Regions from separate parts of the Homo sapiens genome. Here region 1 is linked to region 2. Evidence: fine-mapped expression QTL. Tissue or cell type: atrial appendage. Region 2 holds a variant in brackets; the other region holds the start of a gene. All regions are shown on one strand. Distances are from middle to middle.

Region 1 (2,762 bases), 410 kb before region 2:
AGGTTAATCTCTAGAGGCCAGTCATCCAAACAACCCTCAGTCTCCTCCCCGTTGGCTTCAGAAACAGGATTACAATTTTGGACCTAGACTACGCCCCACCCCTTTTCCCGCTGCAGCCACCGCCACCTTCGAAGTTCTAGTCTTAGCTCTCACGCAGCGGAGCTGCGGACTCCCTCACCGAGAACCGCACCAGGACCCCATTCAGTAGTGAGCGGCGCGCTGGGACTCTGCTACCAGCTCCGCGACGCCGCCGGCAGCCAGCCTGGCTCGGGAGACCCCACCCCTCCCAGCCCGGCCCCCGCCCCCGCCCGGAGCCGCCGCCTGAGTTACGCAGCCTCAGCCCTGACACCTTCTCTGCTTCTTTCCATCTGGATCACCTGGGGCTAGGGGCGGGCGGGAGTAGGGCTGAACCGAAGTGGGATAGGAAAAGCGGGGAAGAACCGAAGCAGTCCCAGCTGCAGAGAGCCAGGACGCCAATGGCAAGACCCCGGCCACACATACACTCTCCTGCGCGTCCTGCTTCTCGGGTTCAATGCCAAGTGGCGACAGGGTGGAAGGAAGGAAGCAGAGGTAGGGTGGCGGGAAGGCCCAGAGTTACTGGTAACGACGTTCGGAGGAGAGCAGGGGATGCTTCAGAAACTGAGAAAGTGAGAAAGTCCCAGACCCCCTCCTTAGCCCCAAGGCTGCCAGCAGCCCGGGTCGCCTTCCCTACAGCGAGGCTCGAGAGACAGGGAGGGTAGTCTGAGCCAAGCTTCCTCCAGGCTGCCCTCCCTGATCTGGCCCAGGGCCCAGAACCCGGCCCCTCTTCAGCCCTGACTTGGGGAGGCTGACAGATAGGCAGCGGACTTGCCAAAGGACTCTGGGGAAGCAATAGGGCAGGAGAGGAGCATCTTGCACGCTCCAGCCGGGCTGCTCACGACTTCCTCTGCCGACACACCCCCAGCTAACCCTCTCCCCCGTCGTCACACACACAGATTCAGAGACACGCGTGCGTTCATCCCTCCCACCAGCCCAGGTCCATCGATTAAAACACTAGTTGATTTCTTCCTGATTAAAAAAAAAAATTAAAAAGTGCAACAACAACTCCTCTCAGGACTCCAGGAGCAAAGAAAGTCCGTCTGCAGGCGCCTTTTCTGTAGTTTCCCAGGAGTTTGGAAATCTGGCTGTCCCTGCTGAAAATCGGAAAGGGGACCCCGGAGGGGTCGAAGGGTGCCGAACTCCCTCCCCACCCCTGCGCCTCTCACCTCCTTAAGTTCCTTGGCCACGTCCTTCAGGTCGCCCAGGACTAATTCCAAATCCTCCACGATGATCTTGATCTGTTCCTTCACCTTGGTTTTGGAGGCTGCCGGCGGTCCCTCGGCTGGACAGGACGAGGAGGGGTTCCCCTTGGACTTGGCTGACATTCTTTGGGGGCAAGCGAGGCAGGTCAGGACAGGCGGGCGAGCGGAGGCTGCTGCGTGCCCCCGTCCCTGGCGCTGCTACGGCCGCTGCCGCCCCGGTCCCCCCACATCTTGGGCGCTCCCTGGGCAGCGGCGAGTGGCTGCGCTCCGCGCTCGGCCGGGCGGCCGCACAGTGGTGCTGCCATCAACTCCCGAGACGCGGCGCTCGGCTCGGGGCTGCAGACGGGCGAGCAGCGCGCCTGCGCCTCCTCCCGCCGCCGCCCGGCGCTCTCGCGCACACGCGCTCGCTCCCCGCCCGCGGAGAGGGGCGCCGTGCTGCCGCGCCAGGGTTGACGCTTGCAGTCCCCTCGACGTTGCCCTTCGAGATATCTCCCAGATGCCACCTTGGCATCAAGGTGGGGGAGACAAGTCCGTGTCCTGCCCGCCCCCTCCTCTTGGTTCTGAAATGTCCCCATCATCTCAGCCTGCTTGCTGTATGTCATCTCACAACTAGCCTGGATTCTTTCTGCTTCACTTGCTAGCAGGGACCTGGATCAATTCAGAAAGAACCACAGTGGGATCAGGAGTTGGAGACAGTCTGTAAAGTGGCCCTACAGATTTATCCAAACCCAAATGATGTCCAGAGGCCTTTAATCAATCTCTTGGTGACCTGCGAGTTAAGCAGACTTCTTAACTTCTGCAAGAAAAAAGGGGGGGGGGGGTGCACATAACAGCTAATGGTCATCTATTGAAACCATGAAATTCAACCAGTGTTCTTGAAAGAGGTACCCTAATCCTGCTAATTCCACAAAGCTAATACCGGATTTATTAATTTGAAGTCCCCACACCCCAAATCCTCTCTGATTGTCTCAGTCATCTTGGCTGTATGTCTTATTTGGCCCAACTCTTTTTTTTTTTTTTAACTGTCCTTCCTCTTTTTGTGACCTATGCTGATTTACATTTTGAGTGGAGTGGGGGAGACATCGTATTTGGACCTCGTGAAGGAGCTGAGTAAGAGATTGCCTCCAACTTCTCTTTCATCATTTTTTAAACCTCCATTTCAACTCTTTTGCTACTAAACAAATAGGAAACAACTTTCTGACTGTTCTGTCAAAAAGACCCAAGAAGGGAAGTTAATAGGAAGCCTTCGGTTCACTCTCAGTAGGTGTCTACAATTCTCATTAGCTAGAATTTTAACTTCCTTAGTTGTAAACCCATGGGCTATTAGCTACTGACCCAGCAGGCTGGCTCTACTTTATTTTCTTCACTGCACACTCCTCCAGATCATTCTTTTAATAGGCTTCCCCTTTTCGTCGTGCCTTAGCAAGGCTCTCTGTTTCTTGCTTCTCACACTCTGGGTAGCTCCACTGTGCTACACATAAA
Region 2 (2,762 bases):
GGGAATCAGAATATTTTATTTTACTTTTATTTTATTACTATTTTTTGTTTGTTTGTTTGTTTTTTGAGACGGAAGTCGCACTCTATCACCCGGCTAGGGTGCCGTAGTGCGATCTTCGCTCACTGCAACCTTTGCTCCCGGGTTCAAATGATTCTCCTGCCTTAGTCTCCCGAGTAGCTGGAATTACAGTTGTGCACCACGACACCTGGCTAATTTTTGTATTTTTAGTAGAGACAGGGTTTCACCATGTTGGCCAAGCTGGTCTCACTCTCCTGACCTCACATGATCCACCCGCCTCGGCCTCCCAAAGTGCTGGGATTACAGGCATGTGTCACTGTGCCCAGACGAATCAGGATATTTTAAAACCTCATCTGTCTAACTATGGCTAGGAAATTTGCTTTTAGTCCTACGATGAATAAAATAATAAGTGACACTACTGTACATCAGCTAATGGCTGAACTGCTAGAACTAGAACTACTAGCACCGTATAGATGTCTCTGAAATTAACAAATGCTCAACAGTCACACGTATTTCTGGAATATACTAAATTATACATAAAACTAATAACACCCTTGCAAATGTATTTTAATACTTATAATATTTAATTACTAACAATCTGTGGATAAATTTTATAAATATTTTAATGTTATTTTTTTAACACGTTTAGTTGCCCATATGAACTTAAGCTAAAATTATGACAGAATTTGTTCTAAGCAGATAAAGGAAGTTTTGGAAAACTAAAACTTGCTTTGTTGTTATCCTTCACCAGAAGGTTATTTTGTACTGATTTTAAGCAAAGATAAGAGAAACTGGTTATTGCCGTATTCAGCCTAATTCCTTTGACAAAATACCCAGGAACAGAAGCTCATATTTCATTTGTCCCAAATGGCCTTCCGGTTGCTTAAAATACCCTTATTATTCTTGGACTAAGAACATGTTCATTTTTCTCATATTACTCTGAGATTAATTTTGGCAGTACGAAGACCTACTGATTGAAATCTATAAATAAAATAGAATAGGAAATGTATAATAGTCTTAATTTGAATAATATTGCTTTCAAATAAATAACGATGAAATTCAGTTCTGTAGAATTTGAAATATCAGCTTTTATAAATTTTGCCAAACATCTTGTATCTGAAAAATCTCAAGTATTTTAGGGAACCTACTGTTTTACTAACATTGAACGTTCTTACAGAATTGAACATTCTCATGTCTTTACACCCCTATCTAGATTAAAATTTGCTCTGGTAAGTTTGTACTACACTGAAGACGTAAGTCTGCATTTTGCTCTTTGAAAAAGCCAGGCATATTTATAGCTCTCTTCAGTGGAAAGATAGAAACAGTGACAACACTTAAGTTGAAAAAAAAGAAGGAAGGGAGAGACATGGAGGAAGGGAGGGAGAAAAAAGTAAAGAAGATAGTCAATATAAATATAATTTAGTTTCTCAAGACAGCCAAAAAAGTAAACAAATGAATAACTAGTGTCTGACAGAAATGTGAAAGTTCCAGGAACATGGCAAATAAAATCTTGGACAAAGACATGTGCAGCGGAACATTCAGCACCCTACAGTTTGAAGTACACCATGTACTCCAA[G/C]ACTTTGGAGATCAGGACACTGTTTGTGTCCAACACTTCATAGACATTGGCAGAAAACCCCCAAAAATGTTTTCCTGCACCTGGTGGGTAACTAACTATATCTCTAATGAAAGGGTTTGTATGTTCTGTAATGTGTTAACAGGATAAAAGAACATGTATTTATGAAAATGTGAAGGAAAGATGGAATAATGTAGCCTCTTTATTTTTTGTAACTGACCTAATCTTCTTCCCCCGGGATGGGTGGATGGAATTGAAGTTTGCTTAACAAGATTTTGCAGTCCTCTCCAGTTAAAACTGTTTCTTCCAGACTCTTTTATGTAAAGCCCCAATGGTTTAAACTGTCTTTTCTTTTCCTTGTCATTTCTAAAGAGGGTATGGGATGCTTAGGTAATCTCATGGTGCCAAGAAAGAGAGTCTCATTTCTGCCCTACAAAGGATTCTAAATGGCATGCTCCCTCAAATTTTAATCATTTTCTTATAGCACAGGGGGAAAGAATATTCATTGTTGATTAAAGGAATCATAAGTGGAATATTTCTATTAATTTTTACGTAGAGAGACAAAAAATATCACCTGGGCTCTATCACAAGTCCCCACAGCTCTTGAGTGCCATTCACATAATGGTTGGCTTCAATTCATTCTATGAGTTTAAGATGAGTAGCAGCAGTCAGCATAGCCCTGAAGATGTTTGTATTTCTGCCATGTTGGATTGGGTGCCTAAAGTTAAATTTTTATTTGTATACCAAAGGCAAATCCCACAATCTCAGGGTTGTCACTGTGAAAAATAAGATGCAATTCTCCAGAATAGATCTTTTCAACGTTTTTGAAAACGAGTCTGTTCCCGTATCAAGTCACATGGTTACTAACAAAAGATATACAATGCAGATTCTAATAAATCAGAAAGTCATCACAGCCAGAAAAAGCTTTATCTCAAACTGATTCAAAAGCATATGATTGATAGATAAGAGATAGGAAGTTTTGACAAACTGACTACTTGATGTTCAGTTATAGAGAATTTCCAAATTCCCATAACCTCAAAATGACAATCTTTCATAGGAAGTTTCCACTTAAAGAAATTATTTAGTAAGAATGAACTGGCAAAGATGAAGAACGGAAATGACATGTAATAGGCTGTTAACATAACCCTTGGGTCAGATTAAGATGTAATGC

Which allele goes with the higher level. Alleles are on the strand shown, and positions count from the first base shown. SD is a standard deviation of normalised expression in the study named.
For the expression in atrial appendage of the gene that starts at base 1,590 in region 1, allele C in region 2 goes with a higher level than allele G (small effect, 0.29 SD a copy in GTEx).

The links. PIP is the estimated chance that this variant, and not a neighbour inherited with it, causes the effect.
Region 1: PRR16 starts here. The variant in region 2 is fine-mapped to the expression of PRR16 in atrial appendage (GTEx, PIP above 0.99).

What each region holds. Positions count from the first base shown.
Region 1 is chr5:120,463,128-120,465,889 of GRCh38, reverse strand. PRR16 (proline rich 16) reads right to left here and starts at 1,590. Exons shown (of 2, transcript NM_001300783.2): 1 at 1,245-1,590. The coding sequence starts at 1,403. RefSeq lists an enhancer at 715-1,216 and a silencer at 1,622-1,671.
Region 2 is chr5:120,052,169-120,054,930 of GRCh38, reverse strand. No RefSeq gene overlaps it. Among named protein-coding and RNA genes, the nearest start is that of PRR16, 410 kb to the left of the region's middle. The variant G/C (reference allele first, on the strand shown) is at 1,595.